2 linked regions of the Homo sapiens genome follow. The protein of the gene in region 1 binds, or shares a complex with, the protein of each later gene. Each region holds a gene or a part of one and is shown on either strand. Other genes may lie near its edges. A codon is read from its position in the direction of its gene.

The links.
Region 2: the proteins of IL22 (region 1) and IL22RA2 are in contact, whole or in part, in a crystal structure (PDB 3G9V), measured with the Homo sapiens proteins. Residues at the interface, in NP_065386.1 of Homo sapiens: Phe47, Gln48, Pro50, Thr53, Asn54, Phe57, Met58, Lys61, Ser64, Leu65, Asp67, Asn69, Thr70, Asp71, Val72, Arg73, Leu74, Lys162 (codon at 1,804), Gly165 (codon at 1,813), Glu166 (codon at 1,816), Asp168 (codon at 1,822), Leu169 (codon at 1,825), Met172 (codon at 1,834), Arg175 (codon at 1,843), Asn176 (codon at 1,846); in NP_443194.1 of Homo sapiens: Lys65, Ile66, Tyr99, Gly100, Gln101, Arg102, Trp104, Gln128, Glu129, Pro130, Tyr132, Met148, Pro150, Arg151, Thr153, Trp155, Trp156, Glu157, Glu200 (codon at 1,888), Pro246 (codon at 3,974), Met247 (codon at 3,977), Leu248 (codon at 3,980), Asp249 (codon at 3,983), Arg250 (codon at 3,986).

What each region holds. Positions count from the first base shown.
Region 1 is NC_000012.12:68,247,488-68,250,658, reverse strand, and holds the end of IL22 (interleukin-22 precursor), read left to right. Parts: intron 1-1,782; coding exon 1,783-1,860; 3' UTR 1,861-2,417; downstream 2,418-3,171. UniProt on the Homo sapiens protein: Cytokine that plays a critical role in modulating tissue responses during inflammation. Plays an essential role in the regeneration of epithelial cells to maintain barrier function after injury and for the prevention of further tissue damage.
Region 2 is NC_000006.12:137,143,021-137,149,653, reverse strand, and holds the end of IL22RA2 (interleukin-22 receptor subunit alpha-2 isoform 1 precursor), read left to right. Parts: intron 1-1,762; coding exon 1,763-1,932; intron 1,933-3,880; coding exon 3,881-4,030; 3' UTR 4,031-5,834; downstream 5,835-6,633. UniProt on the Homo sapiens protein: Isoform 2 is a receptor for IL22. Binds to IL22, prevents interaction with the functional IL-22R complex and blocks the activity of IL22 (in vitro). May play an important role as an IL22 antagonist in the regulation of inflammatory responses.

The sequences.
Region 1 (3,171 bases):
CAACAATGGAAGGCTTAGACTAACAATAGTGACTCACCCCAAAACCGGAGGAATGATTAGGAGCAGTGAAAGTGACGCTCTTGCAAGCAGGTACAACTAAATACTCAGAAACATGAAGGCTCCAGTTGATGGAATTTTCAGTAACAAGCTTAACCTTAATTCCCCCTTTTTCCCTCTTGACTTTTTAAAAAAGCGTTTCTTCCTGAGCATCATTTAATGAGTGTGACTGTTTCTTCCTTTGATAATTGAAGGCTTTGTAGTTTTAAATTGTGAAGCCCAGTTCTCTTGTTATAGAACTATTATCTAGACATGGAGGGCTGAATGTTAGCATGCCACAGACAAGGCATGCTTTACACATCTTGCTTAAAAAATTACTGATTTCATCTTGCTTGTTGTCTTTAGAAAAGTGAAGTGTGAGAGAGGAGAATCTCATGGTGATCTGTGTGATTTTCAAGACCTTTAATCCATTTTGAAAGAATCAATTTCATATTTGCAATGGGTTGCCATGTGGAAGAGTGATTATGCTTTTTTGCTGGTAGCTTCAGAAAGCACAGGAGGGAGAGCAATGTTGTTCAGAGAAAGATCAACAGGAGGAGAAACTGTCAGAGCTGTCTGAAATAGGGTGGTTTTGGGAGGCATTAATTCCCTCTCGTTGGGGGTAAAAGCAGAACGCAGGTTGGTAGTAAAATGCATGACAGACAGTAGGGGACGATAAACTTTAAAATTCTTTATAGTCTTGGAGTCTTTGAGATAGAAAAGAATATCTTTTTGGCCTTATGTCAAAAGAAGTATGGAAAGGTGAAAGGGCGGAAGAAAGCAGGAAAAGGAAGAACCATGTATTATACAGAGGACAATGGTGACAAGGTTTTTCTTGAAATAATGCAAATATGATAGATTAGAGGAATTTCAGTAGGGAATGCTTTTCACTTGAATTTGGGTTTCCTCTTCGATTAAGTTTGGGATCCTCATCTGCATTTGACTTGGAGAGAGAAAGAATGAATGTTAGGACCTATATCTGGTTTTCTATTAACTAAAGCAAGTGGAAAAGACTTATTTGGTATTTTTCCCACAAAAGTGAAAACTTTTCTTTTACTGTTTGTCAAAAAGGTGGAAATAGAAAAAGCCTTAATGTATTGGTGAATACATGGTTCAAAGTCATTTGAGTAGAGATGTTTTAAATCAGGAGTGTCCAATCATTTGGCTTCCCTGGACCACCTTGAAAGAATTGTCTTGGTACACACATAAAATACAAGAACAATAGCTGATGAGCTAAAAAAGTCCATGCATAAATCTCATACTGTTTTAAGAAAGTTTATGAATTTCTGTTAGGGTGCATTCAAAGCTGTCCTGGGCCATGTGCGGCCTGTGGGCTGCAGGTTGGACAAGCTCCTTATAAGTAATCTGTCATAGATAGTTTTGGAGCTGCAAAACAGGCCAAGGCATAATGGGTGGCACTCGGGATCCCCCAGATCCCAGCCTCACTTCAGTCTCCTTGCTCTGGTTAAGAAGGGGTGGTCAACTCTCTGCCCAGCTTTTAAACAGCTTCATTAGTGTGAGGTGCACCTGAAATTGATGCCTGCTGGTGGCCTCTCAGTCCAGAGAGCCGTCATTTTAAGCTCTTTGGCAAATCATACAATACTAAAGGGATATTACTATGAATGTTTTACAAATGCTTAAAACTCGGTTTCTGTCTCCATCAACCTAATCTTGCAATTTCTAATTTGTTCACTTTAGAAAACATGGCATAAATGCTCAAATACTTTTGCATTCTTATTTTCACAGCTTGGAGAGAGTGGAGAGATCAAAGCAATTGGAGAACTGGATTTGCTGTTTATGTCTCTGAGAAATGCCTGCATTTGACCAGAGCAAAGCTGAAAAATGAATAACTAACCCCCTTTCCCTGCTAGAAATAACAATTAGATGCCCCAAAGCGATTTTTTTTAACCAAAAGGAAGATGGGAAGCCAAACTCCATCATGATGGGTGGATTCCAAATGAACCCCTGCGTTAGTTACAAAGGAAACCAATGCCACTTTTGTTTATAAGACCAGAAGGTAGACTTTCTAAGCATAGATATTTATTGATAACATTTCATTGTAACTGGTGTTCTATACACAGAAAACAATTTATTTTTTAAATAATTGTCTTTTTCCATAAAAAAGATTACTTTCCATTCCTTTAGGGGAAAAAACCCCTAAATAGCTTCATGTTTCCATAATCAGTACTTTATATTTATAAATGTATTTATTATTATTATAAGACTGCATTTTATTTATATCATTTTATTAATATGGATTTATTTATAGAAACATCATTCGATATTGCTACTTGAGTGTAAGGCTAATATTGATATTTATGACAATAATTATAGAGCTATAACATGTTTATTTGACCTCAATAAACACTTGGATATCCTAAGTCTTGTCGTTTTGTGATTTTTCTCCTTTAATGTCATCATCATCATCATCATTGTCATGTTACCATTCCCATAACTTTATTCTTGACTCTAAGAAAATGAGGTAGCTATTAGTATTATTCTAATTTTACAAATGAGAAAGCTGCATTAGAAACATGTTAAGAAACATTTTATAACTATAAATAGTTGACCCTTATTGAGCCAGGTCTATCTGATTTCAAGGCTCTCTGCTATAGTGCCTATACTGATTTATTATGTTGACTCAGCATGTACCTTTGAAAAGAAAAAAGTTGAGAAATTGAAAATAACTTATCATTAGTCATTTATGGATAAAAGAAAGGAATGATGTTGCTGGAGAGAAGTACATGTAGCCTCTATTGCTATAGATAAACTGTTTTAGTTCTAGTTCAGGCCTACTGAAAGGTGCACTCTCCAGTATCCCTGAAAGTAAGACACTAAAGGAAAAGGAAAGCTGTGTTTTGGGGAGTCATACCTACTAGTAAGTTTGGCACTGATAGGGAAGTCTCATAGGTGGAAGATGGGCAAGATATTATGAAACACACATAGAAAGGAAAAGGGGTTCATCTTCAAAATGTGTACAATGCTACAGAGAAGAGAGAGAAAGAGGTAGAGATAAAGGTTGGATTTGTTCTACCAAGAAGAATGGACAAAGGATGCCAGCAATGAAGAGCCATTCCTGGGGGAAGGGATTTGAAAGATTGTGTAGGTCTTTTCATATGAGGTCAAAGTCAATGA
Region 2 (6,633 bases), on another chromosome or scaffold:
GGGGAACAGGTTGGATGCAGATAAGTGAAGTAGCAGGTTACTAATAATAGTCTACAGGAGACCGAATTTGGCTTATGAAAAGGACTAGAGAAAATTTATTCCTGGAGGGACATTTAGTAAGCAACATTGGCAGGACCAGGTGATAGATCGGATATAATGGTGAAGAGGACATGTCAAAGATGACCTCTAAGTTTCTTGCATGCATAATTAGATGAATTGCTGAGATCTTTTTGATGGGGTTTGATGAAAAAGACCAGTTTGGTGGGATGCAAGGTAATAGAGATTATGAGTTTGGTTTTGAATATGTTAAGCTTAATATGCTTTTAAGAGATCCAGGGGACATATCTCTTCAGATCCAAGACTCAAAGTAAAGTCTTTATTAGAGACAAAAATTTGTGAGTCATTTCATGCATACAGTACAGTGGACATTGATAGGATTGCCTAGGGAGAGAGTAGTGAGTGAGAGGCAGTTTTGAGTAAGACCAGATATTGAGGGACTTTCACCCAAAGATGCCTGAGTAAGAAAAATCTTAAAAGGAGACTGAGAAGGAATAGCCAAAGAGGTAGGAGGAAATCTGTGGGCTGATATGTTCATGAATAGTGCGGGAAGGTAATATTTCAAGGAGAGAGCTGTTAAAGAGTAAAGTGCTATGAGGTCAAATAATCTTGACTTGGTCTTGTAACACAATCACAATCCAGTGAATGGGTCAAGAAACTTGCAACTGATTGCAAAACTGATTTTGCAATCAATTGCAAAATCTAGCATCACAGATCATAAGCCAGGAGCCCTGTGATGTCCGCAGCTGACTCACTGATAGGACAATGCCTGAAATATGTGCCTCACTACAAAAGGGACATGTTTATTTAAAGTTAACTATCCCATTATTCCAATATAGTTGGAAAGTGCTTTAAAAACTTATGGTTCCAAATTAAATAGCCTGGGAGTAGGAAACTCTCTTCTTCTAAAACACTTAGAAATTCTGGATAAAACACATTCTCCAAACTCCACAGAGGGGCAAAAATAAAAATAAAGGGAATCCTTGGGGGCCAAAACAAAGTAAACGGAAATCAAAGGGGAACCAGAAGACCAACACAGTGACTGCCCCAGCTGCCCTGAAGGCATTTGCTGGATGTGGTAACTAGACCCTAAGTGGTAACAGCCACTCCCAGGACAAAAGACAAGGTTTTAGGCCAGCACAAGGCAGGGAGTTAGAACTAATACCCCTACAAAAGTCTTAGAACCTCCAAGGGCTACACTGTCAATAAAAAGTCAGACTAGCCTGGATGTGGTGGCATGCACCTGTAATCTCAGCTACTCAGGAAGCTGAAGGAGAATCACTTGAGTACAGGAGTTTGAGCCCAGCCTGGGCAACATAATGAGATCCTGTCTCAAAAAAAAACCCAAAACCAACCAACCAAACAAACAAACAAAAGTCAGATTAAGAAAAGCCCTTCCAATAAACAGAGGAAAGTAATTTGTATGTTTCCATCTTTATTCTGCTAAGAATCTAACACTCCCTACATTTATAAAGGTTCGAGATTCAAATACATATGCAATTTTCTTTTTTATTTTTGTTTTTTGACATGGGTTTCACTATGCCACACAAGCTATAGTGCAGTGGCATGATCATAGCTCACTGCAGCCTCGGCCTCCCTGGGCTCAGGTGATCCTCCCACCATGCTGATTTGTCATTATACATAATGCGTCTGTATATAATACATTCCTTTGATGATTTGTCAAATTTTTATGTTTTTTCTTCAGCAAAAATAGATCCTCCAGTCATGAATATAACCCAAGTCAATGGCTCTTTGTTGGTAATTCTCCATGCTCCAAATTTACCATATAGATACCAAAAGGAAAAAAATGTATCTATAGAAGATTACTATGAACTACTATACCGAGTTTTTATAATTAACAATTCACTAGAAAAGGTAAGTTCAGATGAATAGATATATTTAGAGTTTTTTTCTTTTGTTTATTTAACCAATATTGTGGTCATATGAGATGTCCTCTTCTGCTACTCTGCCTCCTCTTACTTTTCCTTATCTTTAATTTCTTCTTACTCTCAGCCATCATTGATCAACGGTTGGTGGTGGCATCACCATCAGAATGTGTGTGTGCCCTTTCCATCCTCCGGTTTGTCTCTACAGTCTTCCCTGCATATCTAAAGATTGGTATTAACCGTATTTAATTGCATGTGACTGCCACAAATATTCATTTTTACGGGCTTTGCACACCTTATTTATTTATTTATTTATTTATTTATTTATTTATTTATTATGTATTTTATTTTTAGACCAGGTGTCACTCTGTCACCCAGGCTGGAGTACAGTGGTGATCATAGCTCACTGTAGCCTCTAACTTCTGGGCTTAAGTGGTCCTCCTTCTTCAGCCTCCTGAGTAGCTGGGACTAGAAGCATGCCCATCACATCCAGCTTTTTTTTTTTTTTTTTTTTTTTTTTTTTTGTAGAGGCAAGGTCTCACTATGTTGCCCAGGCTGGTCTCAAACTCCTGGCCTCAACCAATCCTCCAGCCTTGGCCTCCCAAAGTGCTGGGATTGCAGGCATAAGCCACCTCCCCGGCCTCACACCTTATTTTAAAATAGCTTTTGAATCACATGATTATTTTTGTGCCAGTTTTGCTGCGATTTTTTTTTTGAGACAGGGTCTGACTCTGTCACCCAGGCTGGGGTGCAGCAGTGCAATCACAGCTCACGGCAGCCTCAACATCCTGGGCTCAAATGATCCTCCCACCTCAGCCTCCCAAGTAGCTGGGACTACAGGTGCATGCCACCATGCCCAGCTATGTTTTTTTGTACTTTTAGTAGGGACAGGCTCTGGCCATGTTGCCCGGGCTGGTCTTAAACTCCTGGGATCAACTGATCTGCCTGCCTTGGCCTCCCAAACTGCTGGCATTACAAACATGAGCCACCAGGCCTGGCCTTGCAGTGGTATTCTAATCCACCATCGGTGCTTCTGTCTGGATTTGGTGGATAATTGAATTTGTTCCTTTTTTGGTGCCATCTAAGATGAGGGGTTTTTGTCGTAAGGAGCAGAAACCACAGTTTAACTTGTTTAGAAACAAAAGAGGAGGGGAGGGATAATTAGGAGATAGGCAAGCAATCTCAGGGACAGAGGCAGGACGTAGAGTGCCGGCAGCCTTAGTGGTGACTGGGAAGGGAAACGGAAGTGAGTTCTAAGGGATCCTGCTCTGTCTCTCAGACTTTCTGTCTCTATGTGGCCACAGTTTCATGCCTGCAGTTATCTCTGCTCATCTCGCTGCACATCATTCTCACTGCACACTTCAAATTCTTAAAAAGAAGGCCAGGTGGGGTGGTTCATGCCTGTAATCCCAGCACTTTGGGAGGCTGAGGCAGGCAAATCATTTGAGGTCAGGAGTTCAAGACCTGCCTGGTCAACATGGTGAAACTCCATCTCTACTGAAAATACAAAAATTAGCCAGGCGTGGTGGTATGCGTCTGCAATCCCAGCTACTCAGGAGGCTGAGGCACGAGAATCTCTTGAACCTGAGAGGCAGAGGTTGCAGTGAGCCGAGATGGTGACACTGCACTCCAGGCTGGATGATGGAGTGAAACTGTATCTCAAAAAACAAACAAAATTCTTAAAAACAAGACTCTGACCATGGGGTCAACCAGCCAACAGCCCTCAAGGAGAAGTCAAGTTGCACCTACACAGCCACTTGCCTTGTCCCTTTACCAGGCTATGGCCTAGGACTCTAGAAAAGAAGGATGTGTCTGGGAAGAAACCCCACAACCCATCTACTGCTGTGACCATGTACAACTTGTTAATTTAAACAAAAATGCAGCTGTGACTTAATGGCAGCCATTTACCAACTGATTATTTTCTCTCTCGTGTGTAGGAGCAAAAGGTTTATGAAGGGGCTCACAGAGCGGTTGAAATTGAAGCTCTAACACCACACTCCAGCTACTGTGTAGTGGCTGAAATATATCAGCCCATGTTAGACAGAAGAAGTCAGAGAAGTGAAGAGAGATGTGTGGAAATTCCATGACTTGTGGAATTTGGCATTCAGCAATGTGGAAATTCTAAAGCTCCCTGAGAACAGGATGACTCGTGTTTGAAGGATCTTATTTAAAATTGTTTTTGTATTTTCTTAAAGCAATATTCACTGTTACACCTTGGGGACTTCTTTGTTTATCCATTCTTTTATCCTTTATATTTCATTTGTAAACTATATTTGAACGACATTCCCCCCGAAAAATTGAAATGTAAAGATGAGGCAGAGAATAAAGTGTTCTATGAAATTCAGAACTTTATTTCTGAATGTAACATCCCTAATAACAACCTTCATTCTTCTAATACAGCAAAATAAAAATTTAACAACCAAGGAATAGTATTTAAGAAAATGTTGAAATAATTTTTTTAAAATAGCATTACAGACTGAGGCGGTCCTGAAGCAATGGTTTTTCACTCTCTTATTGAGCCAATTAAATTGACATTGCTTTGACAATTTAAAACTTCTATAAAGGTGAATATTTTTCATACATTTCTATTTTATATGAATATACTTTTTATATATTTATTATTATTAAATATTTCTACTTAATGAATCAAAATTTTGTTTTAAAGTCTACTTTATGTAAATAAGAACAGGTTTTGGGGAAAAAAATCTTATGATTTCTGGATTGATATCTGAATTAAAACTATCAACAACAAGGAAGTCTGCTCTGTACAATTGTCCCTCATTTAAAAGATATATTAAGCTTTTCTTTTCTGTTTGTTTTTGTTTTGTTTAGTTTTTAATCCTGTCTTAGAAGAACTTATCTTTATTCTCAAAATTAAATGTAATTTTTTTAGTGACAAAGAAGAAAGGAAACCTCATTACTCAATCCTTCTGGCCAAGAGTGTCTTGCTTGTGGCGCCTTCCTCATCTCTATATAGGAGGATCCCATGAATGATGGTTTATTGGGAACTGCTGGGGTCGACCCCATACAGAGAACTCAGCTTGAAGCTGGAAGCACACAGTGGGTAGCAGGAGAAGGACCGGTGTTGGTAGGTGCCTACAGAGACTATAGAGCTAGACAAAGCCCTCCAAACTGGCCCCTCCTGCTCACTGCCTCTCCTGAGTAGAAATCTGGTGACCTAAGGCTCAGTGTGGTCAACAGAAAGCTGCCTTCTTCACTTGAGGCTAAGTCTTCATATATGTTTAAGGTTGTCTTTCTAGTGAGGAGATACATATCAGAGAACATTTGTACAATTCCCCATGAAAATTGCTCCAAAGTTGATAACAATATAGTCGGTGCTTCTAGTTATATGCAAGTACTCAGTGATAAATGGATTAAAAAATATTCAGAAATGTATTGGGGGGTGGAGGAGAATAAGAGGCAGAGCAAGAGCTAGAGAATTGGTTTCCTTGCTTCCCTGTATGCTCAGAAAACATTGATTTGAGCATAGACGCAGAGACTGAAAAAAAAATTTACTTTGATCTCTGTTTTTGAATTCTTATTATTTATATTTTGCTTACTACCTTTTTTGCCTTTTGTCCTTTTGTGGAGAGGGCGATGAATTAAGAGTAGTGGGGTGGGTGGCGAGTAAGTAAAATTTCAAATAGCATTTTAGTGAATGCAATTCAGTAGTCCTGAAGCCTGACTTAATAAAACAAAATTCATTTATGGTTGTTTCATGAAAGTTATTAGATAGGATCAAGTTTTGTTTGTATATTGTTTGCCTTGCTCTGTTTTTGCTTTTGTGCTTAGGCAAGTGCAAAATACTCTATGGAAATCATAATTGTCATCTTCTTCATGGTGTTAGGGATATATTGTCACATGATTTCAATAAATCCTTTTTTTGCTTTACATTTTGGAATATTTGTTATTTGAGCTTTTAAAAGAAGAACACAATGTTTAAGTCTGCCAGATGAAATTCCAGTTAAACATCTTAGGCCCACACGAAGTTCCAGCCAGGAAGGAGCAAACAGTTTTGAGCCCGACTGAGCTTGCCCTGTGATCAAATGCAATCCCAGTCTTACAGCTGCTCAGGCCAAAAGCGTTGAGGTTATCTTTGTCTCCCCGCTTTCTTTCACATCATATATATTCAATGCACCAATAAATTCTATTGATCTACCTCCAAAATACAACACTTCTCAGAACTACCTATTCCAGGCCACCATCATTTCTCCTCTGGATGGTCACTATGGTTACCTCATTGGTGTCCCCGCTCTGCTTGCCTCCCTCCAGTTTTGTCTTAACAAGGTGGCCAGCATGAGCCTTGGAACATAAATCAGATCATGTCACTTTCCTGCTCTAAAACCGCCAATAGCTTCCCATCTCATAAGGGTAAAAACCAAAGTCTTTATAATGGCCTCCAAGGCGCTGTATGATCTGTTTCCTTTCCTCATAATCTCCCAGGCCTCACTCCCTAATTCTCACCTTCCTCACTCTTCTCCAGCACACAGACCCCTTGCTTGCCCTCAAATACAAATGCCCTAGGCTTCTGGGCCTTTGCACCTGTTATTTGCTGGAAGGCTGTACCCCCAGGTTTCCATAGATTCACTTCCTCACCTCTGTCAGATCTTTGCTGGAAGACTGCCTTATCAGTGAGGCTAACTTCACTATTCCATTTAAAATTGCAACCTACCCTCTGCAATGATCTATA